4 linked regions of the Homo sapiens genome follow. The protein of the gene in region 1 purifies or fractionates together with the protein of each later gene. This does not show direct contact. Each region holds a gene or a part of one and is shown in the gene's direction. Other genes may lie near its edges.

Region 1 (7,293 bases):
AATATATATGGTTGTCTCCTAAGTAACTAGAGCTATGTCATATTTTTGTATTCCTCCCTACTGCTATTGCAAAAGTAAAAACTCAGTCTGCCCTGCCTTCTTGACCCCACTCTCTGTGAGCTTATTTATTCTCTTGCTCTTCCACGGCTGGTTATCAGTACCATCTACTTATTTACCAAGCTATCAAATGTAGAGACAAGCAGCTCTGTTCCATATTCCTAGCTAACCATGTATCTGTACTTTCCAAGCCCTATTGAGAGTTTACAAAATCCTTTGAAACTGTTTCACTTGGCCTCTGCCCTCTGCCTTGATTTATTCAAGACTTATTATTTCTATCTTGGACTAATATAACCATATTTTAAAAGTGTCTCTTGTCCTCCTCTTTTCCACTTGCTCTATTTTTACATTGCCACCAGAATTACCCTTGAAAGATGCGGCTATACACATACTGAGATGCTTAAAGATCTGCTTTAAAAATTATTTGAGGGTATTAAGAGGAGAGAAGAAAAGAAAATTTCACAGTTTCCATTGTGAATAGGGTAACATTCAAAGTGCTTTTTAATGTGCTCCTAGCACAACTTTTCATTCTTATCTTTTTGCCACATATACTATGTTTGAACCAACTAGAAATTCTGCCCATGCCACAAACATGTAATGCTCCCATTCTTTTTGAACGTAGTACTTAATACATTACATATTAATTAGTTGCAAACTCTCACTTGAATTACTCAAGGACAGAGACGGTGTCTTTGTTCACCTTTGTACCTATCTTAGGGCCGTGCCTGGAATAGAACAGGTGTTGAATAAATGTTGATTAAATTTAACTATGCTCATTCAACAAGGCTATACATTTATTTTTCAATTTGGAAGACACTGCACATTGCAGGAATCGAAAATTTATCATAGGCCCTGATGATTCTCCTCCATTTGTGAAGCATCAGTAATAATTGCCTTGTGTTATGAAAATTTATTTGCTTAGAAATTCTGTGTCATGGATGATAGGCAGAAATTACAAAGCCGAGAAAAATTATAAAAGGCCAATGTCACCTCTTAACTCTAAGTTTCTTTTTATTCTTCCTCAAGTTTAGCCATTCGGATGCATTTAAATATATTTATATCATACTAATTTGGTTTTTGCTAAGGATTTTTTGTAATTTTATGTTGTCTCTAAAGCTCAGTTTTCTTGACAAGTTGAAAAACCCCATACATATGTAATAGGATGTTATATTTAGCATTTACCAAGGCATAAAGAAAGTAGATGCTTCATGTAAAAGTAAAACCACATTTCAGGGCTTGTAAAAAAGGAGATGGTAGGAATTTGGTTTTGCTACCTTGAAATGCCCACAAACTTTTGCCTATAAAAGAATCTGAAGGGCCAAAGAGCAAATGGAAATTGAGAGAATACTTCTGGAAAGCTGCAGATATGATATTTGTCCCATTTTCTTCCAAAGGTTTGGTATTATCAAAATATAATTGCAATACTTAAAAACAAGATATTCTTTAAGTAGAGAATATACATGTGATACAGTTTAATTCATTAAGGACGGAATTATTAGAATGGTAAAGCTGGTTCAAAGAAAATTTGGTAGCTGACTGTATATAGGAATTGAGATAAAATATTAGTATGAGATTTCTAGGTTAGATACAAAACTGGTTAAAGTTGTATAGTGCAATAAAACCATTAGCTTTGAAATTATTTTATTTAAAGGAAAGACATTATTTACATATCCAGATACAAATGATATGAAAAATGCAGGTGAAAAAATCTTCAAATAAACATACAACATTACACAGAGACTTTATCAATAGTTAATGATAAGAAAAGCAACACTTTTTTTTAGAAAATCATGTAATGCTCAGATTATCTTAAACAGTATTCTAGTATGGCATTGAAAAGACATGCTGTTTTTGGCTTTACCTTATTTCTAAGTTTTGGATAATGCTTGTTTACAGTCCCTGACCCTTATTTCAAGCTTAGTAAAATGAGTCATGTAAATCTGTGCTCTTAATTTCTGCATTGCCGGTAATTTTTATCTCTTTAAATTGAATATCTCCAGTTCAGAAAACTTGTATTCAAACCTTGTCTCCACTGTGGCACAAAGAAGCATGAGTTTGGAAAAACCCTCAGGAATACTGTGCTCTTGATATAGTTGTGGTAAACTGTGTGCGGCATTGCTGGTGTGCCAGTTAAACGCATTTTACTTCAGTGGAGAGAATATCATCTCTCTAGAGCTGTAATTGTTTTGACATGTTTCATTTCATTTTGTCACTAATCATCATTCTGAAAGACAAGCACTTCATACTTTTTATTTTACTATGTGACTTAGCATAGGCTTAGTTTTTGTCTCTGCTTTGCCTTTTCATAACTGTGCATAAGCTATTTTTCTAAATATAAGATAATGTTCTTTTAATGCTTTCAAAAAGTGCAAGAATACTTTATACATTATTTTTATGAGTTTAATTTTACTATTGTGTAAGTAAATGCATTGTAAGAATCATTTTTTGGAGTAAAAGTCCTTTGTAGAAGTGAGGAGAAGTTATTTGCAAAATAATCTTTACTGGGACATAATTGACATGTGTTTACTGTTCTCTCTGGACTGTTTCTTCCTCTAGTGGCCCATGTCTTTCTCTTTCCTTGCATTCAGATACTTCCCTGGCCATCTACCCTAAAACAGAACTCAATTAGTTTCTATTTCTTTATTTGGCTTTAGTTTTCTTCATAGCAGCTGACATGCATTTATACTTGTTTATTGCCTTTCTGCTCCTGTTAAAATATATTTGAAAATAGGAGGGGCTTTGACGATTTCTTCACTCCAGTATTTTTGGGATCTAGGAAATGGACTTTCAATAAATATTTGTGGAATAAATAAATAAATGAATAGATCAGTAAATGGACGAAAGCTGAAAATATCTTTGGTAATTTGAAGAGCGCGCCTGTATGGGAAATAGTCTGTGCAAGAAAACCAGTAGTATCGCACATCCACCTGAAACTAGTTCTTGTATTAAAGTTAAAGGAAGGACGTGGTAAAGTTATACCATGAACACGTTAATAGCAACCATCATAGCCACACCAGCACCACTGTTTCTTACTGTTTATTAAGCACTCAATATGGGCCTGGCTTAGAGCTAAATACTTAATATTTATTGTTTCATTTACTCTTCCATACTACATTACGTATGGACTAACTGTACTGTTATCTCATTTAAGCAGTTAGACTGAGCATTGTTACTTGCTCATGGTCACACAGCAGGTAAGTTGTGGCAGTACTGGCACTCAATCTTGAATCTGCCTGACTCCAAAATCCAGACTTATAACCAGAAGACTACCATTGTCTTCTCTTATCCATAGTGGTTGTAATCTTATATAATTGAATATGCCAAGTGAAATCATTATTTTTTTTTAAATGGGTATTGGCAGGCATAGTAATGTCAAAAGTAATGGTGTAAAGATTAGTACATTAACTGTAATAGTTAGGATTGTTAGTCTGGTACCGAGACAGATGCAATGTGGTTAAGCATAGAAGCCTATACAGTGCAGTACCAACCACACATCCTACTTGCAGTATTTAAAAAGGGAGATAAAAAACAGCATATTTAGGAAGCCAAAGATAAATTCACTACAGGTGCAGCTTTGTTCGGAAGAGTTGAGTTGAGAATTGTGGGTTAACTGTGTGTGTGTGTGTGTGTGTGTGTGTGTGTGTGTGTGTGCATATATTTGCTTTTGCTTTTTGTTTTATACCCATTAGACTCCACGGGTCATGTATTCGGTACAAAGAAAAGAGAGTTCTGGACTTTTGAAGAGACCTGGAATCTCTATTGACTTTGCCTATGGTAGCCATTGATAAATCATTTAAACATAGCATAAATGTGGGAGTTCTGAGACTAAACTCCTTGAATTAATTTGTAGGTCTGCCATTTGCTAGCTTTGTAATTTTGGATTAAGATAGTCAAATTTTTTGTGCCTTAATTTTTTTAGATTTAAGCTGGCTTGCTATGAGGAAGAATCAAATATGACATATAAGTCTCTCACTTGTGCTTGGAATATGACACATGCTCAGGTTTAGCACATACATAATCTCCAAGATCCTCTCTGGCGGAAAGCTTCCAGAGCCTGTTGAGTTTTTCCGCCCTTTTCCTTCCTGTGATCACCATTCTCTCTCATTTCGCAGGCTCCTTTTCGCCCTCTGCCGGCGGACAGTGGCAGAACCCAGCTTTCTGGTTGCTATGGGTACCGAGGTAACGCGGTAACCAAGGAGACCAAGACGGAAACTCCCGGCAGCTATCCGCGGCCATCCGGCGGTGGTGACGCGAGAGGCTGGGGTCTCCAGGTGGGTTGTCTGTCTGCGGGTGGATGAGAGGGGAGGATGGTCTCTGAGTCCGCCTAGCGGGCAGCAAGCCCGGGCTAGTTGGTGCGGGGAGCAGAGCGGGCAGCGCGGCTGGGAAGCAGACTCAGCTCGGGTGGAGCTGGAGGCACCGGCCCAGCAAGTGTTTGCTGAGCCCCTGCCATAGGCTGACATAGTGCCAGGCCTGCAGGCAGCAGGACGGGGCCCTGGCCTCAGGAGTTGAAAGCCTTTGGTATACACCAAAGACTTCCCAGCCCAAAATGCTAATGGATAAATGAATCAAGAGTGAACCCCAGACAGTGAAATTGGGGACTTCATCAGTTGTACCCCTTCTGCAGCCCGACCCTTTCAAATACTAGCCCCTTTTATCCTTTGAAGTCATTTGCACCTTATGAAAAATTTGGCACCCTGAGAAACCATATTTCATCCCCTTTTGTAGCCTTTAGTCTGCCTGCGCGTTCACATGCACCCACTTACTTCTTGAAGTCTACTCCTCACAAGTAAGGGCTATGGTGCGGGGTGCCCGATTCCTGAGAAATCTGAAGATGTGGAAGTTTATTTTTTCTTCCCAAAATCAGCAGTAGAGGGACTCAGGTATGTAAGGTTCAGTTATATATATTTTATAGCTTGACTTAAAATCTAAAGTTAACAAGGCTCATTAAAAAATATAGTAAAGTTGAAACTACACAGGATTAAAATTATACAAACTGTATGCTTATGCAAATGTAATGACTCCCTCTGCCTTTCTCCAATTTAGCTTATCTTATAGTCTACACAGAGGGCTGCCCTGACCTGTCATAATTTTACCAATTGTATTACAAATGAATTGTTTGAAAGTAGTTCCTTTATGTCTTTCAAGACACTTAATAATTCTTGCAATTATTTTATTCGCTTTTTAATTTTTACCTACTTCCTTCACCAGAGTGTAAGTTCAGTGAAGACTGGTATTATACCTGTCTGGTTGACCTTGATCCTCAGTGCTTAACCTGACACCTGGCAGGGAGAGAGTGTTCAATGTATATTTGTTGATTGCTCATCAAGATCGTTAGGAAACATGGAAAAAAGAAAACAAAAAGTTTAGTTGAAGTGGGAAAGAGGGCGTGTTTAATTTTTTCCGTAGGGTAGGTTGTGCAAAAAACTAAAAGCAGTAGAAAAAAAATTACATACTTAGCACATTATTATTGGCACTACATTATGTATAGGGACTGTATTGATTGCTGGGGTTTCAAAGGTCAATGGTAGGACCACTCTCAAATATTTGGGCTACTTAGGGAAACAAAATCTATATAAACAAAGATGCAAAAAATAACACAAGGTAACATACAATAGCAAATGAGTTTAATAAACATGGTCTTTCTATACAAGGAGAAGCTCGGTTTCGATGGAGGGAATCTTCATGATACAGGCAGCCTTCGAATTGAGCATTGAGTAGAATAAAACTTGGTGAGCAGAGAGGTAAACACTAAAGCTCATTATGTAAAAAAGATGAAAGCAGAGATGCTAAGGGTAAAGCACAATCTTGATGCTCCATTTTCTTCTCTAGGTAGTTTCTAAGGCTGTGCCTTCTCTAGGTAGTTTCTAAGGCTGCCCCTTTCCCTGAACCGTGAGCTCTCTGGAGGTCTTATAGAAGCCCACAGCTTGACAAGTCAAGTCACAAATCAGACACCTTTTGTTTAATATCCTGCAAATTAGAGGGGGAGAGGATCCTTACCATTTTCTACATGGATAAGCTGAAGCTCAGAGATTTCTATCACACAAAGATCTTATGACTTTAAATCCAGTGAATTTAGTCTACCTAGGTTTTCTGACCTTAAATTCAGTGCCTTTTAATATTGTTTATTATTTTTAATCAAAAGTATTTTAAAATGGTATCTTGTCCCTTGATATCTAAAGGCAAAGTTTCTCAGTTGTTCTCAAGAGAACCTGCCTATAGAGCATAAAAAATGGGCAACTTGGGTACCATTTAGCACCTTGAAGCAGTATTTTACTATCAGATATCTTGTTTGGCTGAAAGATTGAATGCAACCTGAAGTCAATACCTATATTAGTCCATTCTCACACTGCTATGAAGAAATACCCAAGACTGGGTTATTTACAAAGGAAAGAGGTTTGATTCACAGTTCTGCAGGGCTGGGGAGGCCTCAGGAAACTTATAATCATGGCAGAAAGGAAAGCAAACACATCCTTCTTCACATGGTGGCAGGAAAGAGAAGGATGACAGCTAAGTGAAAGGGGATAGCCCTTATAAAACCATCAGATCTCATGAGAACTTACTATCACGAAAATAGCGTGGGGGAAACTGTCCCCATGATTCAATTATCTCCTACCAGGGCCCTCCCACCACATGTGGGAATTATGGGGATTACAATTCAAGATGAGATTTGGGTGGAGACACAGCCAAACTATATCAATACCTGCTTTACTTTTAGAGCTTTTGCTATGAGAATGTGGCACACATTTATTTAGTAGGACACTCCAGCACAAGATACTATTCTAGAAATCATGTATTATCAGTTCTTGCCTTATAATTTTTTAAATATTTTAAAAAATATATATATTTAAAATAAGGATAATTACAGATAGAAGAAATGTGAAAAGTAAAATTCTTTTAATTATTAAAAGCAACTATTTTAAATTCTCATTTAACATTTCTTTCTTGGGTCTCTGATTTCTAAGTACTATGGTACTAAATGCCTAAACATGTTAATTCACCCAAAGTTGTTTGCTAATTAGACCATTTCAAAATATTGCTACAGTAAGGGAAAATCCCTATTTATGGTATGGTTTTTAAGTCTTGTGCCTAGCATGATCTGAGTCATTAGAAGAATTAACTAAACTTAGATAAGTTTTCAGTTACAAAAAGTGGCCCATCTTGTAAACAGTGGTTTCCCAAACCTCCCATTCTGCCAATGGTGTTCTCTTGCACCTCTGGCTGAATGCTCTGAGTTTC
Region 2 (7,023 bases), on another chromosome or scaffold:
AAATATAGTAGATGCCTTATTCTGCAGGTTCTGAAGAAATAGTTAATTATTGACATTTTTTCCTTAAAAAGTACCAGCTAATCAGAGGTAGTTCACAAATTTTATTATTTCTCATTATTTTTTACTTAGACAAAATTTAGGATATTTTGAAGTTCCATAGGCATTAAAAGCATAGCCTTTTTGGATATAAAATATCCAAAAAGCAAAGATGTCCCAGTTACTAGAAGGAATTTCGCAGATTAAATGGTGATAGCATTATTTTTTATTTAAACAAATTTATTATGTGGCATGATTTATTTTCAACCAGGATGTTTTGGTCGTGAATTGTACAGCAGAATGGGCAGCTGCCAATCATGTTTTGGCAACCTGTAGGACAGCATTGAAACAGCAGGGTGTTCTGGGATTGAACATGGCTCCCTGCATGAGAGCATTTTTGGAGCGGCTCCCCATGATGCTTCAGGAGCAGTATGCCTATGAAAAGGTAACTCATTACACTCACTCCTAGAGATACACAGATACCTGGTGCTTTGGAATGTGATTATAGCCTTGAACTTATCCCTTAAAAGCATGAGGTCTGAGGATAATAAGTGGGGCTATTTGGGCAGAATCAAATGAAGGTAAGTCATGCCTAAAAGAGTTGTTCAGCAACCCTAAGCCTATTCTTGCTTTATTTTCACCAGAGTAAAATAAAGAAACAAACACCAAGTTTGTATTACTGCTTTTCAGATTATTTATTCACTCCAAAGCTTCTTAAAATACCTATGCAGCAGAATATCTTCCCTTTTCTGACCCACACATATATCTATTTTTATATGGCTTGGCCATTCCAAAGTTGAGGGATAGGGATGGATGCGGGTATCAGACTGAATATCGTCTCCACTTATTAGATAAATCTTTGTGGAAAATTTAGTGGAAGAGCTATGTTGAATTGAGTAGGGTCATTAAATACTGGAATGAGGAATTGCAGCGTTTGAACTTGTCCAGACAGTGATCCTAAAGTAGCCTGTCTTCCAGCTTTTTGCTTTTCCTTTGATGGCTACCAGGATTCTCTTATAAAGGAGGAAAGTGAGAAGAGCAGATCTCTGTGGTTAAATAGTTACCTGCTTTTTTTTCCAATCAAGAAAAACCATGATGAAAATGTACTATATGCAGTGTGATAGCTTAGATTGGATCCTGGAGCAGAAAAGGAGTATTAATGGGAAAACTGAGGAAAACCAAATAAAGTTCTGTGGTTTAGTTAGTATTGTACCAATGTTAGTTTGTTAGTTTTGATAAATGTGCCAGGGTTGTATAAGATGTTAACATTGGATAAAGTTGGGCGAAGGGTATACAGAAATCCTCGGTACTATCTGTACAACTCACTCTAAATCTAAAATTATTTCCTAGCAAAAAGCTTAAACAGTAAACTTGAAAAATATGATTCCAGACTTTCAGACTACGGTAGGTTAATTTAGAATATTTGGCACAAACTCTTTGACATATTATATCCTTGTATTTTGTTTTAGCCTCATGTGGTTTGTGGTGACCAACTTGTTCATAGCCCCTATATGCAATGCTTGGCTTCCCTTGCTGTGGGACTTCATCTGGATCAGCTGTTGTGTAACCCTCCAGTGCCACCACACCACCAGAACTGTCTCCCTGACCCTGCATCCTGGAATCCAAATGAATGGGCCTGGTTAGAATGTTTCTCAACCACTATAAAAGCTGCCGAAGCCCTGACCAATGGAGCCCAGTTTCCAGAATCTTTTACCGTTCCAGATCTAGAACCTGTTCCAGAGGATGAACTTGTATTTCTAATGGTAAATGTACTGTGAGCTGCTATTATTTGCAGCTGAGATTTTATCATGGGTATTGGGCATGTAGCAGACCCCTAATAAGTCTTTGCTGGTATGCATGGCTAGAAGGATACCCTTAAGAGAAATGGAAAATATTTTTCTTTCAGATAGTCACTTTCAATCTGATGGCAGGCCTCCATAGTGACAGGAATTGATAATGTAAGCACTGTTGAACTCTTGTAAACCTGCCACCTCTCAATGACATAGTCCCATATTTTCTCATTTTCTTTTGTCCATAGGTACTTTGTTAGTGCTTTAGTTGTATATATCTTAGCATCTTTTCCTGGTCATCTTGTGGGTTATATGCCACATATAGATTCTAATTTATTTGGCATTTCAATCATGTCTTTAATTAGCATCAAATAAAATATAGAAGAGCATTCTAATTGTCATTTCATTCTGTTTGTATTTGAGAGTGTCTACTCTAGAAACTGTGACATAGATAAAATACCTGTTTAGACTACAGGACAGCACATGATCTAACAACCTCTTTGTATACTTAAGATTTATGTATACAAACATTTGGATAAACATTGATACAATATGAAACAGACAAATATAAATTAAGTAAAATTATGTAACTGTAGCTATGCATCACTTAATGATGGGGATATGTTCTGAGAAATGCATTGTTAGGCAATCTTGACGCTGGGAATATCATAGAGTGTATAGTACTTACACAAACCTAGATGATACAGCCTACTTGCAACAAGACTATACGGTATAGTCTGATTACTCCTAGGCTACAAACCTGTACAGAATATGACTGTATTCAATGCTCTAGGCATTTGTAACAGTGATAAGTATTTGTGTATGTAAACATAGAAGATATAATAAAAATAAGGTTTTATAATCTTAAGAGACCATCTTCACACATGCAGTTTGTTGTTGACTGAAATGTCACGTGGCACAAAAGTATACAATATTTTAATCAGAAAATGTCCTTCTAAGCCCATTTGGCCCAACTCTGTAATTTTGTAGATGAGGAAGCTGAAGCCCAGAAAGATGAAGTAATTTGCCCACAGCTACACAAAGAGTTTACAGGGGTGTGGGGTCCTCCACATGACCTTGTACCTGTGGGTGTTCAGAAAACACATGGCTAGCTTTGAATCACCAATGCCATAGTGATAGTGATAGTGAAAGTGTTTATAATAAAGGGAAATACTGACAGTGCATAAAATCAAGTTTGACATAATTATAAAACTGCTCTTAATTTATCATAATATTACCATATTCTTTTTTGGAAATAAGACTTAATGATTAGAAGAGGACTTTGTGGTTAAGAGCAGGTGCATCTTGCCTAAGCAGAATTGATCATTATGTACCCCCTGTTTTTCAGGATAACAGTAAATGGATTAACGGCATGGATGAACAAATTATGTCTTGGGCAACTTCCAGACCTGAGGTCAGTAAAGATGAAGATAACTGTATGATGGTTCTCAGTCAATGTTTTGATTCTAAATGCTTGTGTGTTTGTGCCCTGGTGTCTCCCATACAGGCTGGCACACACTTGGTACGTAGTACATGGCTGTTTGAGTGAATGGATGACTCTAATTTTGAGATGATTGTGGTTTTCTAGGACTGGCACCTGGGAGGTAAATGTGATGTCTACTTATGGGGTGCTGGTAGGCATGGACAGCTGGCAGAAGCTGGAAGAAATGTAATGGTACCTGCAGCAGCTCCCTCATTCTCACAGGCCCAACAGGTAACTAACAGGATAAAAAATAGAAAAGAAACATGGGAACTGAAAATTCTAATTCTTTTGCTTGTCTTATTGTGGGATAAAGCTTGTCCATTTCATAATCTATTATGAGGAATCATTAAAGAAAGTCATGATATATAGCTTTCAAATAAAAACTTGGTGTGGTTTTTATCAGACTTAAGAAGTTAACAAATTTCTAAATTTTTCTTTCAAGTTTAATGAACTAACATCATGATGTGTTAGGCCTGCCCAGTATGTATTTCTAGCAGTTTAGATACTCCTAATTAGTGATTTTCTCTTTGGGGCTAAAAACTTCCTAGGATCTTTAGCCAGATTTTATCGACCACTCCCCTTTTCTAATAATCCTGGTACGATATAGCGCCAAACCCTTCTCGAGGCCTCTGCTTTCTCTTTTGCTCTTCTTTACCTCAGCTAGTCCAGATTGCATGACTCATTCTTATGTACGAGTTTCTGCTTCTTTCTAGCCCAGTCTTTAATGTTTCCCCATCACCCCTTCCTTTTTCTTTCATCCATTTTGTTGTTCTAAACTATTTTAAATGGATGAATCTCATACATCTCTTGGTTAAATAAGCAGTTTTATAGTCATCAAGGAGTTACGGGACTGCATAGTTATATCAACTCTTCCCTTTCAGTAAAAGGATAAAACAATTATAAAAGCATTCTATGTATACGTGGAATCATTTCAAGTGCTTGCATGTTAAAGCAATATAATAAAGAATAAAATATTTAATTCTGTGTTTTTATACTAGGTCATTTGTGGTCAGAATTGTACCTTTGTCATCCAGGCCAATGGCACAGTGTTGGCTTGTGGGGAAGGAAGTTATGGCAGATTAGGACAAGGAAATTCAGATGACCTTCATGTGCTGACAGTTATTTCAGCCTTACAAGGTAAAATTGTCCTTAATAAAAAGATGGTTAGAACCTAAGGCCTAATGTAGGTTTGGTCGTACAAACCTTTGCCCTTCTCAAACCTTTGCTAGATAAAATCATATCAGGTTTTCACTTACATTTAAATCCTTATTTAGGCATGTGTGCAGCCTTAATTTCCATATTTTAAGCTATATTGCAGGTTACTTATAGCAATGCTAGAATTCAGTGAAATATAAATAACACTTTTTGAGACCCACTGAAGATTGTAAACAAATGCTTAAAAATTGCAAAAGTGTAAGTAGGCAGATGTTAATAGCAGTAGCAATCATGCATGTATTTCATTAAAATTAAAAATCAGTTTATATGGAAATCTGCAAATGTGCTAAAGACTTTAAAGGACATCTTCATCAGAGTTCTTTGTGACTTGGAGAGAGAACACCTTTGGAGAAACCACTGTACAAGCCCCCGGCTTGCTCATTAACTGAACTCATAATGACTCTGAAGCCTACAAAGAGAGCACCGACGGTTTTTTTAGGTAAAAGCATACAAGTAACTATGAGTTCAAAACAAGTTCCTAGAAGCTCAGGTTCTTTTCATTGTGATCTGAGTGTGAAGAGCACAGCAGTAAAGATGAGAATGTGTGCTGGGTTCCTATGGGTTCTACTGGTCCTTGGCTCTGGGACATTGCACAAGCTTCGAGACCTCTTTGTGACTCAGTTTTCCCACTTGTAAAAATGGGATGTTAGTATCTGTTTCATAGGTGCTATGTGAAAGTAGAAAATGAGATAATCCATGTAAAGCATTTATAGGAGTGGCTAGAGCATAGCCAGTCATTAATGACTGTAACTATTGCTGTCATCCTCGTTTTCCTTGTCATCACCATTATTTTAGGTGACTATTCGCAGTTTTGCTAGGTTATGGCTACAAATTCAATTTAAAACTAAAGAAATTAGGCCGGTTACTGTGGCTCATGCCTGTAAACCCAGCGCTTTGGGAGGCCGAGGTGGGCGGATCACTTGAGGTCAGGAGTTCATGACCAGCCTGGCCAGCATGGTAAAACCCTGTCTCTGTTAAAAATACAAAAATTAGCCAGATATGGTGGCACATGCCTGTAATCCCAGCTACTCAGGAGGCTGAGGCAAGAGAATCACTTGAACCGGGGAGGTGGAGGTTGCAGTGAGCCGAGATCACACCACTGCACTCCAGCCTGGATGACAGAGTGAGACTCCATCTAAAAAAAAAAAAAAAACTAATGAAATTATTCTTATTTTCATAGTACCAATTCGGTGGTTTTTGATTGAGGGTATTCAGTAGCAGCTGCAAGTAAAGAGGAGAGTTTTAACATCCAGTGACTCCTGTTGGGTTTCTGTTCTGTTCCAGGCTTTGTGGTGACCCAGCTGGTGACTTCCTGTGGTTCTGATGGGCACTCTATGGCCCTAACTGAAAGTGGTGAGGTCTTTAGCTGGGGAGATGGTGACTATGGTAAACTTGGCCATGGGAACAGCGACAGGCAGCGGCGGCCCAGGCAGATCGAGGCCTTACAAGGAGAAGAAGTGGTGCAGGTCAGGCAGGAAATGGATAAGTTTGCCTTTCATTGTAAATATACTAGTTGTTGAATAGGTTTCTTAAAATTAGGTAACAGAAAATATAGTAAAAATATATTACACAGTAATTATAAGAGATCCATTGGTTTTGGATGTTCAGATTCATTCTTGAGCTTGTCAGAAGTTTGAATAGGCTTTGGTGTTAGTATTGGTCTTGTTAGTATTGGTTAGAATGGTCTTTTTCGTGAGCCAGCTGGTTGGCCCAGACTAGGGTGCTGCACGCCCTTGGAAGGAATATTGTGTGGTTTAACTTCTGCCACACAGTTCTTAATACACAGATAAAAGGAAAACTTTGCTTTTAACCTATCATTTATGTTACAAAAGCTAAGTTAACATGCATTTTCTGGAAAATAGTGTTCTAAAATCATATTGTAAGATTGTATAGCACCTTATAGTTTACAAACAATTTCCCCATTTATTATCTCATTTAGTCTAGGTCATGTGTACACAGCTGAAGAGTAGCAGTAGTTACTCCAGGGTATGCTGTTCAGCTTGGGCTTCCTGAGGCTGTTGAGACAGATCAGACTTGGGAGAGCAGGAGAGCAACTTGGGCAGATAAATGTACCAGTTGGCCAGATGCAGTGGCTTATGCCTGTAATCCTAACACTTTGGGAGGCCAAGGCAAGAGGATTGCTTGAGGCCAGGAGTTTGAGACCAGCCTAGACAACATAGCAAGACCCTGTCTCTACAAAAAATAGAAATAAATAGCCAGGTGTGGTAGCACATGCCTGTAGTCCCAGCTACTTGGGAGGCTGAGGTGGGAGGATTGCTTGAGCCCAGGAGTTTGGGGCTGCAGTGAGCTGTGATCACACCACTGCACTCCAGCCTAGGTGACAGAGCAAGACACTGTCTCTTTAAAATTTAAAAAAAAATTAAAAAAAAAAATTTTTAAAAGCATTGGTCTTTGAAGATCCAGTTTTCAGTGAAGTTTATGTAAAGTTTATTGCTATATTAATACCAAAAATGGCAGATTTACTTTTTTCTTAGTTTC
Region 3 (7,023 bases), on another chromosome or scaffold:
GGCCCACTGTAACTGCGACCTCCTGGCCCAAGGGATCCTCCCACGTAGCTGGGACCACAGGCACCTACTACTGCACCCTAGCTACTCAGGAGCCTACGGGTTTGAGGCCACTCGGCTGATTTTTTTATTTTTTGTAGAGATGGGGGTCTCACTTTGTTGTCTAGGCTAGTCTTGAACTCCTAGGCTCAAGCAATCCTCCTGCTTTGACCTCCCAAAGTGTTGGGTTTATAGGCATGAGCCACCACACATAGCTTTTTTTTTTTTTTTTTTTGAGACTGCAGTCTTGGTGTGTTGCCCATGCTGACCTGGGCTCAGGTGATCCTCCCATCTGAGGCTCCTGAGTAGCTGGAGCTGTGCGCCACCGGGCCCAACTAATCTAGTCTCTTTACTCTCTAATCTGGAACATTTCCTCAGCTTTTCTGTGACTTTATTGACATTTGCATTTTTTGTTTGTTTGTTTTGTTTTGAGACAAGAGTCTTGCTCTGTCGCCCAGACTGGCGTGCAATGGTGCGATCTCAGCTCACTGCAATCTCTGTCTCCCGGGTTCAAGCAATTCTCCTGCCTCAGCCTCCCAAGTAGCTGGGATTATAGGCACCCGCTACCACGCCCAGCTAATTTTTGTATTTTTAGTAGAGACAGGGTTTCGCCATGTTGGCCAGGCTAGTCTCGAACTCCTGACCTCAGGTGATCTGCCCACCTGGACCTCCCAAAGTGGACATTTGCATTTTTAAAGAGTAAAGGCCAGTTATTTTTTATAATGTCTCTCAACTTGGATTTATCTAATGTTTCCTTGTGATTGGATTCAGAGTGTGCATTTGCAGCAGGAATACTACACTAAGTGAAGTCATGTCCTTGAGTTCTCAGTGTGTCTCATCAGTAGACACAGGTGTTGGCCTGTTCCGTTATTGTGATACTTACTGCCATTGTATGGTTAAGGTAGTGTCCACTGTAAAGTTGCTATTTTTTAATTTTGTACTTAATAAGTAATTTGTCCAGAGATACTTTGAGATGATGTGAGTAATAGATGACTTCCAACATCTTCCAATAAAACCATCACACGACCCTTAGAGCCAGGCATGATCAAGTCACAGATTGATAGAGCAAGGCTCAGAGAGATTTTATAAGTAGCTCTTACTGGAGGTCACCCAGTAGGTGTTAGTGGGAGAGCTGCTTTCTGAGTCCACAGTGAGCTCTTTGCCACTGCTCTGTACTGTCAGACTTTGTTGAAGATGACACAGTGTTGGGGCCCTGGCAGGTGCTGATTGGAAGCCAGCTCCCCCACCCATTTGGGCTGACCCTCTATGGAGAGCGCATCTATTGGACTGACTGGCAGACCAAGAGCATACAGAGCGCTGACCGGCTGACAGGGCTGGACCGGGAGACTCTGCAGGAGAACCTGGAAAACCTAATGGACATCCATGTCTTCCACCGCCGCCGGCCCCCAGGTGAGCAGCCCTTGGCTCGCATTGGCTTCTCCGTGGCCCTCCTATGCCCTAGCTCTCCCCATTGAACATCCCCTCCTCTCTACCCAGTGTCTACACCATGTGCTATGGAGAATGGCGGCTGTAGCCACCTGTGTCTTAGGTCCCCAAATCCAAGCGGATTCAGCTGTACCTGCCCCACAGGCATCAACCTGCTGTCTGATGGCAAGACCTGCTCACCAGGTGAGTGAAAGCATCACAGATCTAGATGCAGCCTCTCTGGGAGGGGGCAATGGCTCTCTTCCTTCCTTGCAGATGGGCTCCAATGTGGTCTGAGAAACCATGAGTCCTGCTGCTTCTAGAGGCCCAGGGGAGAGACTCACGGCTTTTAGAAAAGGGGACGGGCCTGGGGAGAGGCCCTGGGGAGCAAGTAGAAAGGACTGGAGGCAGGGTCCAACTAGTTCTTATGATGTCTTCATGCATATTAGATAAAGATGCTCCTTTCTCAAGACACTTTCCTCTCATCTCTTAGTACATTGTCATAATATACTGATTTGGTTGGAATAAGACACTTCTGGCTGGGCACGGTGGCTCATGCCTGTAATCCTAGCACTTTGGGAGGCCAAGGCAGGCAAATCACTAGAGGTCAGGAGTTCAAGACCAACCTGGCCAACATGGTGAAACCTCGTCTCTACTGAAAATACAAAAATTAGCCAGGCATGGTGGCGCGTAATCCCAGCTACTTGGGAGGCTAAGGCAGAAGAATTGCTTGAACCTGGGAGGTGAAGGTTGCAGTGAGCAGAGATCACGCCACTGCACTCCAGCCTGGGTGACAGAGTGAGACTCTGTCTCAAAAAAAAAAAAAAAAAAAAAAAGACACTTCTAACTGCCCAAAATTGGTATAATAAAAACAGAAATGTATGATATCTACAATGTCACAGTACCCTCCTCCTTAGATGTGCCACTTTTGTGAGTGCACAACCTATGTGACAACCTTATTGGAGGGTCCCAGAAGCAGTACCTGGCTACCCAGATGTCGGAAGTCAAGGCTTCTCCCTAGGAGATGCTGCAGGGTAGGCTGCATTTGAACTCTAACCTCCCTGGGAATTTGAGTGAGAAAGGAGCTGTGAACTGTGCCTCTCAGGTTGTGAGTAAAGCCCCCTGGGGTCCCTTTATTCCCTTTCTTTTTTTCTCTTTCTTAATCTTCATGGTAAAGGGTCCTTCAAAGAGAGCCACTTTCATAATATTAATAAAGAGGCATTATTTATGAATATGTGTGAGACCTAATGGTAAGTGCTTTATGTACATGATCTTTTAACCCTTACAGCCACCCCATTATTGTCCCCATTTTATAGATAAGAAAACTGAGGCCTAATAATTTAAGCTGAGAGTAGTGGCTCATGCCTGTAATCCCAGCACTTTAGGAGGCTGAGGTGGGCAGAGGCTTGAGCCCAGGAGTTTCAGACCAGCCTGGGCAATATGACGAAACCCCATCTCTACAAAAAAATACAAAAATTAGCTGGGCATGGTGGTGTGTGCCTGTAGTCCCAGCTACTCAGGGGGCTGAGGTGGGAGGATCGCTTGAGCTCAGGAGGTCAAGGCTGCAGTAAGCCATGATCATGCCAGTGCACTCCAGCCTGGGCGACACAGCAAGACCCTGTCTCAAAAAATAATAATAATTTAAATAACTTGCCTAGAATAACATAGCTAGAAACTAGCAGGGACAGGGCATGAGTTTCAGTTTGCCTGATTCCAAATCCATTTAATGGCTGTGCTCGAGTGATCCTCTTCCCTCCTCTCCACCTGGCAGGCATGAACAGTTTCCTCATCTTCGCCAGGAGGATAGACATTCGCATGGTCTCCCTGGACATCCCTTATTTTGCTGATGTGGTGGTACCAATCAACATTACCATGAAGAACACCATTGCCATTGGAGTAGACCCCCAGGAAGGTCTGTATGGCCCTCTCTTCCCACCTGGCCTTCTGTCCCTGCCCTTCAACAATTACTGTCTTTCCTCTCCCACCACCTTTGTCTCCTGCCAAGAGCCAGGGTGTTTGTTCCCCATTCCCTCTGGCATAGCCCCTGTCCCTGTCTCTCTAGCACTCTCTCTTTGGTTGTGAGAGCATGGTTTGGGGCCCTCTTCTCTCCGTCTCTGCCAAGAGCTATCCTGCTATGATATTTCTGCGTTTTCCTTGATTTCCTCTGCTAGAGGCTCCAGAGCTCTCTGACATGCTCTGGTGTTTCAAGACATGAATCAGCTGTGTGTGTCCCATTGTAGGCGGTGAGGGTCTAGGTTGAGCCAAGCTTTCCCTCTCCAGGAAAGGTGTACTGGTCTGACAGCACACTGCACAGGATCAGTCGTGCCAATCTGGATGGCTCACAGCATGAGGACATCATCACCACAGGTGGGCCTTCCTCCTAGCCCAGGGACCACCTGTCTGGCAACAGGGCTGGGGAAATAGCCCATCTGTTTTAAAATAGGAGCCAGTGTGCTCTTTTGACTTCCCACAGGGCTACAGACCACAGATGGGCTCGCGGTTGATGCCATTGGCCGGAAAGTATACTGGACAGACACGGGAACAAACCGGATTGAAGTGGGCAACCTGGACGGGTCCATGCGGAAAGTGTTGGTGTGGCAGAACCTTGACAGTCCCCGGGCCATCGTACTGTACCATGAGATGGGGTGAGAGCTGGCTGTATCGCACTGGGTAGTGTGGGGGGCCAGCTCAGCTGGGGTTATGACGGGGTAAAGGTGGGTAGTGGAGAGGAAGCTTGCATCACAGAAACAAGGTGACCTCCCTGGGGCTCTTCCACTCTCTTGTGACTTCTCGCAGGGTGACAGTACAGTGTAGAAGTTAAAAGCATGAGCCTTGAATCAGAATACCAGGATTGAAATGTTTTCATCATGTATTAGCTATATCACTTGGGTCCGGTATTTAACCTCTCTAATTCTCAGCTTCCTTACCTATTAAATGGAGGTGGTAGTGAAAATACATACCTTGTGGCCCTTATGAAGGTTGAGATAATGCACATGAAGTATTTTGCAAAGTACTTTGTCAAGCAAAAATTTTGCCTGACATACTGTAAGTACTCAAGTGTATCTGACATACTGTTAAGTATTCATGGTATGTGGTAGCTGCTGGAATAACTAGCTAATATAGCTAATATTCTTCCTCACTCAGGTTTATGTACTGGACAGACTGGGGGGAGAATGCCAAGTTAGAGCGGTCCGGAATGGATGGCTCAGACCGCGCGGTGCTCATCAACAACAACCTAGGATGGCCCAATGGACTGACTGTGGACAAGGCCAGCTCCCAACTGCTATGGGCCGATGCCCACACCGAGGTGAGAGCCGTGTCCCTGCTGCTTCCCAGGAGCCTGGGAAGATGGGAAAGGCCTGCCTAGGATCTCCATGGAGAGTTCCCAATCTGCTGATCACCACCCCCCACCCTCTCCTTCCTCTGCAGCGAATTGAGGCTGCTGACCTGAATGGTGCCAATCGGCATACATTGGTGTCACCGGTGCAGCACCCATATGGCCTCACCCTGCTCGACTCCTATATCTACTGGACTGACTGGCAGACTCGGAGCATCCACCGTGCTGACAAGGGTACTGGCAGCAATGTCATCCTCGTGAGGTCCAACCTGCCAGGCCTCATGGACATGCAGGCTGTGGACCGGGCACAGCCACTAGGTGAGAGTCAGAGGGCTGGGGCTGTGAGTCAGAGCCTCTGGCTTTCTGGGGCCATCTCAACATCAGAGATATATCCAGAGCACAGAGCTCCTTTACAGCCAGAAAGACGGTGACCTGTTTAAGCTCCCTTCCAGATTGGGCTGTGTTCTCTCTGGGTATGGCTGGTACTACAGCTGTCACCTTCAAAGGACTCCTGGAGATCCTCCTGCAGACCCTCCTTCTACCTCACCCTGCCAGGCACTGAATCCTGTCACTTAGAACAGCAAAGAGCCAGCCACAAACAACTGGGACCTTTGTAAGATTCAGATGATGTTCCAGGCTAGGTGTGAATACTTGTGCTTCTCATCACCAGGTTTTAACAAGTGCGGCTCGAGAAATGGCGGCTGCTCCCACCTCTGCTTGCCTCGGCCTTCTGGCTTCTCCTGTGCCTGCCCCACTGGCATCCAGCTGAAGGGAGATGGGAAGACCTGTGATCCCTCTCCTGAGACCTACCTGCTCTTCTCCAGCCGTGGCTCCATCCGGCGTATCTCACTGGACACCAGTGACCACACCGATGTGCATGTCCCTGTTCCTGAGCTCAACAATGTCATCTCCCTGGACTATGACAGCGTGGATGGAAAGGTCTATTACACAGATGTGTTCCTGGATGTTATCAGGTATGAGCAACACTGAAACCTCCAGAAGACACAGATTTGCTTCTGGTCGCCCATGGGTGAGGTTGTGTTCTGACCACTAAATGGATGAGTGATTTGGCACTTTGGATAGTGAGTTTTAATCCTGACTTGTTCACTTTGTAGTGTTGTCACTTACAGCAGAGTTTCAAACTTTCATTTGTTTAGAGATTATATGGAAGCCTAGTATGTAAAACAAACAACAACAACAAAAAAAACAGGTAAAGTCAGGGGACCTGGAGACTTTCACATCTACCATTGTGCCCTGAGGGAGCTCCAAGAATCCCCTAGGACTTACTGATGAGTAGGCCATATAACCAGTATCTGTATTGCAGTAAAGGAGCCCCAATCAAATGCCAAGTCTTATGGTGGTTTACAAAGCTGTTGTTTTTTATTTTTTCGTTGTTTTATTTTTAGTCTTTAAATTTGTGGCCCTAACACAGCTTAGGAATATGATGTCCTGCCACCAGTAAGAGTGGTTTACCATGGCAGATATTCTCACATGGAGGAACAGGGAACATTCCCCTTTGCTCTCCCCAAGGGATGTATTAGAATCTCAAACTGGGGACAGGTAGGCATATACAGTTTAGGGAAGTCCCCTAGGTGACAGTGACATGCTCCCCATTCTGAGGTAGAGTTCCCTCCTGCCCATAGGGCCTTTGCAAAAGTGCACAATTAGGGTCTGGCGTGGTAGCTCGCGCCTATAATCCCAGCACTTTGGGAGGCCAAGGCGGGAAGATTGCTTGAGCCCAGGAGTTCAAGACCAGCCTAGGCAACATAATGAAACCTCATATCTACTTGTATTTAAAATTGTTTTTAACTTTTAAAAAATGCACAGGTTGGTTTTGACAAATCTGCGTTTCTTATCATCACCACCTAGCAATCCTTGTCTCTTCCCAAAGGTATGTGGGGAATGATAAACTTGTCTTCTAGCAAGACATCCCCTGGCAACCGCCACTATGTCCAGTTAGCAGGAAATACTGTGTCCTCCTAAGAACTGGTTCCTTCATTCTGCAATTATTTTATTGAACATCTATCATGCTGGGTGCTGAGGAATGTACTCATAGATACCTGGTCTCTATCCCTGTGGAGCTTACAGTTCAGTGGGGTCCAGTTATGGGAACATGGGTTAAAGTTCTACTCTATTCTGGGTCAGTCTGGTTGCTCATCCAACACTGGGCTCTCCCCAAGGCGAGCAGACCTGAACGGCAGCAACATGGAGACAGTGATCGGGCG
Region 4 (7,758 bases), on another chromosome or scaffold:
TGTAAGTGCTGGGATTAAGGGCATAAGTCACTGTGCCTGTCTGAGGGACCTTCTAAAACTTGCGCTCTCTCACAGGTTTTGAAACACATTGGAAACCAAATCCCTCGCTAAATTCATCTCCTAGAAAAGTATAGAAAACAGGACTGGACTTGTGAGCTTTGTAACTGTAACATTACTGCTAACTTGTCCCAATCAGGGCGTGAGGGTCAAGCAGATACAGCATCTCACCTAGGCTAGGTACCTAGGAAGGGAGACAGTGCTGGTTAAGGCAGGGCTGAGTTGTGAAGGAGGTGAGGCCTACAGCCACTCCCTTTCCTTCTTTCTGCCCTAATTCCCGCTGTTCCACTATACCCAGGACTTGAAATACCAGCTCTTCTCTTCCTAAGAGAGGTATCAGATGTGGCAGAAAAAGGGAGCCTGGGTTCAAATTTATCCCTTACTAACAGTAAGTTAGCAAGCCTGTTTAACTTTAGGCAAAGCAAATAGTCTTCCTTTCTGAATTTCAATGCTTAAGGTCTGTAAAATGGGGGTGACAATAATTCTCGCTTTGGCCCACTTCAAAGGGTTGCTGTGCGATGGAATGAGATAGATAATGCTGTTATAATGTTATGCAAATGTAAATCACTGCTATGCAAAATAACTTACTGCTATTTCCAGAAACTCCTCTTTGGATTTAATTTAATCAAGAGTGAGAATATAAGTTACTTATTCTATGCTCTGGGTGCATTTGTATTTTAAACCTCATCAATTATCTTGGACGCTTTCCTAACTGAAGTAGATTTTGGCAACAGCAGGAGAAGGAGTTATTTCTTTGGGGGCAGGCGGGTATTTCTATTTTGCCTGAGCTGGTGAGGTCAATGGTAGTTATTTGGCCAAAGTAACATGGAAGAGGGAACAATGTTTACCATCCTAAGGGCAGGGAAGTCCCTTTTCTGCTTTAATGACTCTGGTCTGGTTGCGTGACTCAGAGAGGCCTGCTTTGGGGGAGAAAACGAGGTGGGAAGCAGATGGTGGTAAGAAAAGATCTGAGATTCAACTACATTGGCCCCTTAACCAACCATTGCCACCAGGACAAAGGTGGTGTCACTTCTCACCTTCATTTAAATGCATGCATCCTATAAATATCATTGAGTGCCACCATGTGCCAAGAGTATGCTGGGCACTGGGCGTCTAGACTTGAATGAGATAGACTGGTTTTGTCATTCTGCTGCTTGTAGATTAAGAGGAAGATGGAGATTAAGCAAGTGACCAGAGAGGAAGTATCAAAGGCTACAGGGGACTAGAGCCTTAGAGTGAGGGCTGTAACCTAGCCTAGGTGCCTAAGGAGGCTGCTCTGAAACCTGAAGGCTGAATAGAAGTTGGCCAGCCAGGAGGTGAGCATGTGAGAAGGCCACAGGAAGAGAAAGAACAGAAAGAAGTCAAATTAGGCTTTGGGGAGTTTTTTCCTCTTCGTGGCTGTCCTTGCTGCTATTTTAAACATGACTCCACCTGGATAAAAATGTAGGACACTGTGACCTCTGTGTGTTTGTCCTCTACCTCCATCTCCAGTGGCCTAAGATGGGCAGTAGGACAGAGGAGGGCAGTTTAAAGTCTGACAACAGGCTTAAGACTGTTTTATACACAGCTGTGAGTCTATCATTACATTTCCGTGCATGTTGATTTTCGTCATGATGCTGGGCAGCATCCGAGCAAGGCCATGCAAGATGGGACAGAGGGGGATATGGTACTGTCTTCCATCCTGCACCCCAACTTTGATGTTACTTCAGAGGGATAGAGGAAGTGGTAGCTTGTTTACAACCCAGAGCTGGTTTTGAAGCTGAGAGGAACACCTCACTCATATTGCACGATTCAGCTCTAACTCCTGTCCTGGGTGACCTTGCCTGTGGCTGCTCCTATCTCACAACCCAGTGGGGGTCCTGAAGGTTTGGGAGTGGTCAGGGCTGAAAGGTGTCTTTTCATTTAACTTATGAAGAAATCGTAAGAGACAAGATGATCAAGACAAAAAATTACATAATAATTTGGTTGCAAAGCCAGGACTAGAATCTATGTTTCTAATGCCACCTGCATGCACTATTTCTCTCTGGAGGCCTTCACACAAATTTGCACAGCTATTTTATATACTTACCTCATCTGATACTCTCAGCAGTCCTGTGAGATTGGTAGGGATTAAGATCTCTATTTTACAGATGAGAAAACTGAAGCTCTGAGGAGGTTTGGCCAAGTCCCCACAGCTAGAAAGTCAACCTTCTGACTCAGAATTCAGCGTGTCTTCCACTGCGTTCTGTAGTTGTGCAGCAGGCACAGTCTTGGGGGGTTGCTGATTATCTACCTGAGAATGGTTTGGAATGTAGATAATGATTAGATAGGAGGGCTTGCAAGGAGTTAATTAACCATGTTTGAATATTCTTACCAATTCTCTAGCATTCAAGTTGCAAATCAACATCAAAATGAGCAAGTAGCTGGCCCTGCCCTACTAGTCCTTCTGTGCAAGGGGCCATCTGAACCTTAAGCCAGCAGTTTGTGTGGGCAAACAGATGCCCATCTTCAAATCCACACTTAGGAGACTCCTGTCTCTGTTTTCTGCTGGGACTCTGACACTTGCTCTTGCAGAGAAGGTTCTCATTAAATATATGTTGGAAAAACCCCAATAATTGAATCATCTACAGGATGTTCTCACTTTAGCCATATTCCCTTCATTTTCCTTTGAGGGCTAAATGGGAGTAGAGATATCTTTGCTGCTGGTCCTGAGAGACCATGGGGTTGTCCATTCCTGGTAAGGTGATGCTGACCAGACAGAGCTGATCTAGATGAGGGGTGGGAGGTGACAGTGGTTCAGTGGCTTTCTTGGAGGATGCATGATTGTTTGAATTATTATTTTTAATTGACATATATAAGTATATAATAAATATATATGTTATATATATGAGTTAGAGCTGAATTGCACAATATGAGCAAGGCGTTCCTCTCAGCTTCAAAACCAGCTCTGGGTTGTAAACAAGCTACCACTTCCTCAATCCCTCTGAAATAACATCAAAGTTGGGGTGCAGGATGAAGGCACCCCAATAATACCACACTGGGGAAAGTGTGGTATTTTGATACCTGTATACAATGTATAATGAACAAAGCAGGGTGGTTAACATAGAGAATGCATGATTTGCTTGGTGGGGAGAACTGGATGGTTCTGTAATTATGTTGAGATGGACAGAAAGACATCATCTGACTTGGGGAGAAAATCGGGTGTGGGAGGAGGTGGGAGAGTGCAGAACCTGAGGCAGAGGTCCCCAGCAAGTCTGGCATGGGGTAGGGTAGGGTGGTTGAATACTGGCTTCAGGGAGATGAGGCAAGCTGGCCTGACTCTGGCAGGTTGTCAGTGGTAGTCCTAGGTAGAGGAGGGGGCTTTGCTAAGCTACCTGAAAAGTACTAGAGTGGGCCGGGGTAGGAATCGGGCTACCGTGGCTTGTCGGAGATGAGGAATGTTTTTAGAAAATTGAACTGACCATCCCTTCCTTCCCCTGAACAGCAGCTTGTATGCAACTATAAAGGTAGTCTCCCTTTCAGCCCTGCTTGCTGTGTCTTTATTCTTATCAAAAACCAGGATCTGAGTTCAGAGGGCAGTGAAACATAAAATGAAATAGGAAAGGTTGCAGTAGTACATAGACTTTGGCTGCTCCCACTAACCTGCAAAAAAAATATTTTCCTTGGGCGTACCTTAGCAGTTCCATGGCAGAAGTTTTATCTCCTGTGGTTCAGAGAGTTTGGCTCGTCAAGCTGAATGTAGGGTTAAAGTGTGTCCTCCCTCCTCTGTGGGTGTTTGCCTAGCTCCTGGCTGTGGGTTGAAGGGACTGGTAAATATGTCTATTTTACTGCTGAGGCAGGGTGGCTCAGTGCTTGGTCACCTTGGAGGGATCATAAGCAAGCCGCCGCTGGGGCCCTGTGCCACGCACAGGTATTCATGCGTGCGTGCAAGCACACCCTGTATAGCTGTGTAATAATTGTCCAGGTGTGGTGCATTCTTTGTCAGATGTACCCTTGTTTTTACTGCCTCTGTGCAGGATGTTTATTTGCTGTGCTTCAGGCTGGGGCACGTAGCTTGATCAAGGGTAGTTTTTGCTGTGGCCCCTGCAAATACGTTGTGGTGCCCAGAGTAGATGAAAAACTGTGAGTTTCCCAATAGAGCGGGTTCATCTGGACTCTTGTTGGTTGCGTTCTAGGAGCTAATTCTGTGGCTCTGGACTCTTCCCTGGAGGTGGGGATGAGGCCGGGGCCGGGGGGAGGTGGTCTTGTGGCGCTACTGCGGGCTGTGCACTCAGGAAAGTGGCCACGGTTTAGGACGACCTCGACACGACCCTGTATAGGACGCAACTAACTCCAGAGAAAACGAGCGAGCCCCATGCAACTCTTCATTCCTGCAGGGAGAACAAGGAGGTGTGCCCGCCAGGGAAGGGACGCACCCCCACCGGCGCTCGCTGCCTTAACTTCCCCATCCCCGCGCCAGGGAGGGGCCGGAGTCGCCGCCGAGGCCGCCGAGCGCAGAAAGTGCGCGAAAGGGACGCGCTGCGAGCCTCACACGTGACGGCGCCGCGCCGAACCGAGCGGGACCTGGCGGCAGCGGCGGCGGGCGCAGCGGGGCGGCCCGGAGCGGCGCGGGCGGCCTGGAGCCCCGGGAGCGGCGCGCGCGGTCCCGGCCCAGCGGCTCTCCTGGCCTCGCGCTGCACATTCTCTCCTGGCGGCGGCGCCACCTGCAGTAGCGTTCGCCCGAACATGGCGACACGGAGCAGCAGGAGGGAGTCGCGACTCCCGTTCCTATTCACCCTGGTCGCACTGCTGCCGCCCGGAGCTCTCTGCGAAGTCTGGACGCAGAGGCTGCACGGCGGCAGCGCGCCCTTGCCCCAGGACCGGGGCTTCCTCGTGGTGCAGGGCGACCCGCGCGAGCTGCGGCTGTGGGCGCGCGGGGATGCCAGGGGGGCGAGCCGCGCGGACGAGAAGCCGCTCCGGAGGAAACGGAGCGCTGCCCTGCAGCCCGAGCCCATCAAGGTGTACGGACAGGTGAGCAGTTTTGCAACCCGCCTCCCTCCAGTTTTTTCCTCTCCCTGCACTTCCTCACCCCCGCATCCATCCGTTGCAGTCGCCTCCTAGGTGCAGGCACCACTGGGGACTTCCCGGCTTGCATTTGTTTTTTTCCTTCACGAGTACAACCGTCAGCACTTGAATCGCATTGATCTTTCCTTCTTCCTGTCGATTTAGTAAACGTATTCCAGGTAACTCGCCGGGTGCAGTGCGTATTACCCCAGGGTGTGTGCAGAGAGATGTAGTTTCCGGCAGGTATAGGAGGGGTGCAGCTTCATTTTACATCTGGATAAAAAACGGGCTTTCTTTAGTGTATCATCAGTTGGCAGTGGAGGCGAGCACCCTGCAGTTGCGGTACACTTACACAGAACAGCACGAGGTGGGGGTTTCCACACTTAGCATTATTAGCACAATAAAAGTGGGCAAACCTGAAAGCTTGTCGACTATCTCTGTACAGTCAGACAAGAGGTGTGTGTATGTGTGTGCGTGTGTAAAGGCTGAATTTTTAATTTTTAATTTTTGGCGAGCGTGTGAGATGCTCTCCATTCCTTCTTCCCCACCCTTCAAGATGCTGACTCTCCCACCCCCGTCAAGATAACTTTATTTTGGAGAGGAATACCCCTCATGGCACTTGGAGATTTGAAAGGACTGCAGGAAATTTGGTGGGCATTATTATTCTATAAGTGATTTATTTCTACCCAGGCAATAGGTTTATTAGATCATAAGTAACGTGAATTTCACTTTTATGGTCAGACTTACTGCGAGGAATTGCAGATGGAGTTTGTAGGTTAGGATCAGCACTGGCAAAATTAATTTGACCGTGTTATTGCCTCATGAGACTCCCAGTCCTGCAGTTAAGATTGACATCAGCAAAAGTATAAGGTCGGTGGGGGAGAAAAAGTAGGACCAGAGGAGGGGGTAAATACACTTGTTTTCTAGAGTCAAATTGTTCCTTTTGAAGTAGAAATTATTAATAAAAGATTACCCTGAGTTCTGCCTTTTCTCACTAATTTCACTTTAGCCATTTCTTCAGGAAATACAGAGTTAAATGTTCAACCCTTGGATCCAGGACGAACCTTGTAAACATATCACCCTATTGTGTCATTTTGTTGGTGAAGAAACTGAAGCGTGGAATGGTGAAGTGACTAGTCCAAGGTCATACCGGGAAGGTGGCCTGCTCTCTAGTTTTTGTCTGCATTGTCTCAGTGACCTTTGCTTGACTGCAGTCACCCTGTCTTTATGCAATGCTGCTGAAATACCTCCTTTCTAAAATAAAATAGATCTGGTATAAAGGGGGAAAGGATGGTGGTGACTGGGTGGGAGCGTTGGATTTCCCTCCACTATTGGTCCCTGGGCAAGAATGTGTGCCCCAGGGCATGTAACTAATGGTGGCCACAGGCTGCAGGAACCTGCATGCTCAGTTCCTCTTGGGCCCAGATCCTTGTCCCCCTGTCCCCACCCCATATGACAAATATGTGTATGAACAAAAAGAAGTCATCAAGGTCCTTGCTCTTAACAGCGACACCAGCATGGGGCTGATGGAGGGTGGGAGAAGGAGGAGGAGTGGCCCACTTCTTCATTGGGCCTCCGCAGTCAGCCCAGCTCTGCTGTGCTCTTGAATCAGCATTCTGGGAACTGGGAGTTGGGGGCTGGTGGGAGACAATCCCTCCCAGTGCTCAGGTCCCCTGAAGCTATAGTTTAGGTTGAGGAAAAAGTTTTCTGGTTTCAAAAATATGTGTACATGTGCCATTTCTTTCTTGGGTTTGGTTTATGAAAAGCTCCAGGGGATGTGGGGCAGGTTGGACATGAACTCTGTTCTCACTGGGAGTGACTCCCAAACCCTGGGCTTTTGAGTTTCTGGGCCAGCCAGATTGAGTTTGGTTCAGCTGAAGGATGGAGAACTAGCAGTCAAACTCATAATGAGGAATTCCTAACCGGAGGGTGAGGGTACAAGGGTGAGATTTTTCTTCTCTGTGGCTGCCTTCCTATGCCATTGTTGCCTCTTGCTCTGAGGTTAATAAGAAGTGGAATTAATTTGAATCTGTAAGGATTTGAGTCAGATAAAAGGAAGAACTTCCCTGTACTGGGCTTTCTGCCACAAGTTCTATCTGGTGCAGACCCTTCAGAATGCAAGCACAGGTTGGTGACTGAAGGGGTTTGAGGTGCCCCTCTTGGAACTCTGGAGTAACTAACATCTATTTGGAATGATCTTTCTAGCAAGGATGACCATTGCCTCTGTGTTTCCCTGGGGCAGACCTGGTTTCTAAGTTGTCTCTGGTGGTTATGAATAGCACCCCCTTCACTCTCAAAAGTGTCAAGATGTGACAATAAATTATATGGTCCTACTTTTAGCCTTAAGCCAAGTTCCACTTTGTAATCACGACTTTCCCCTTCAACGTTTAAACCTAAGGAATGGTGATGTTTTCCAACAGTACTGCTTGACTTGAGTGTGGTTCTATGGAGGTGCAGTGAGCTGGGGAATAAAATTTCATTCCTGCTTTTAGGAAATTTACAATTTAAGGAGGAGAGCAAGCAGATGCAGATACAGGCATGTCAATGTACCAGGATGGGAACCAGGAAACATGGTCACAAGAAACCAGCCACAACTCTACAATGGTGTGATAACGGGCTGTGTGACATGCAGCGCATGGGAGATGGAGAGATAAGGGGTGGTGGGCTCAGACACTGTCC

The links.
Region 2: the proteins of ZBBX (region 1) and HERC1 purify together in Homo sapiens (affinity purification with mass spectrometry; 2 studies listed by BioGRID and IntAct, with this or other methods). This does not show direct contact.
Region 3: the proteins of ZBBX (region 1) and LRP4 purify together in Homo sapiens (affinity purification with mass spectrometry; 2 studies listed by BioGRID and IntAct, with this or other methods). This does not show direct contact.
Region 4: the proteins of ZBBX (region 1) and SORL1 purify together in Homo sapiens (affinity purification with mass spectrometry; 2 studies listed by BioGRID and IntAct, with this or other methods). This does not show direct contact.

What each region holds. Positions count from the first base shown.
Region 1 is NC_000003.12:167,377,282-167,384,574, reverse strand, and holds the start of ZBBX (zinc finger B-box domain-containing protein 1), read left to right. Parts: upstream 1-4,277; 5' UTR 4,278-4,328; intron 4,329-4,782; 5' UTR 4,783-4,937; intron 4,938-7,293.
Region 2 is NC_000015.10:63,634,928-63,641,950, reverse strand, and holds part of HERC1 (probable E3 ubiquitin-protein ligase HERC1), read left to right. Parts: intron 1-307; coding exon 308-481; intron 482-1,505; coding exon 1,506-1,799; intron 1,800-3,174; coding exon 3,175-3,240; intron 3,241-3,414; coding exon 3,415-3,540; intron 3,541-4,307; coding exon 4,308-4,446; intron 4,447-5,808; coding exon 5,809-5,990; intron 5,991-7,023. UniProt on the Homo sapiens protein: Involved in membrane trafficking via some guanine nucleotide exchange factor (GEF) activity and its ability to bind clathrin. Acts as a GEF for Arf and Rab, by exchanging bound GDP for free GTP.
Region 3 is NC_000011.10:46,873,549-46,880,571, reverse strand, and holds part of LRP4 (low-density lipoprotein receptor-related protein 4 precursor), read left to right. Parts: intron 1-1,256; coding exon 1,257-1,446; intron 1,447-1,533; coding exon 1,534-1,665; intron 1,666-3,232; coding exon 3,233-3,373; intron 3,374-3,741; coding exon 3,742-3,828; intron 3,829-3,934; coding exon 3,935-4,106; intron 4,107-4,605; coding exon 4,606-4,768; intron 4,769-4,890; coding exon 4,891-5,116; intron 5,117-5,468; coding exon 5,469-5,772; intron 5,773-6,155; exon of another isoform or gene 6,156-6,978; coding exon 6,979-7,023. UniProt on the Homo sapiens protein: Mediates SOST-dependent inhibition of bone formation. Functions as a specific facilitator of SOST-mediated inhibition of Wnt signaling.
Region 4 is NC_000011.10:121,447,571-121,455,328, forward strand, and holds the start of SORL1 (sortilin-related receptor preproprotein), read left to right. Parts: upstream 1-4,743; 5' UTR 4,744-4,761; coding exon 4,762-5,046; intron 5,047-5,104; exon of another isoform or gene 5,105-5,397; intron 5,398-7,758. UniProt on the Homo sapiens protein: Sorting receptor that directs several proteins to their correct location within the cell. Along with AP-1 complex, involved Golgi apparatus - endosome sorting.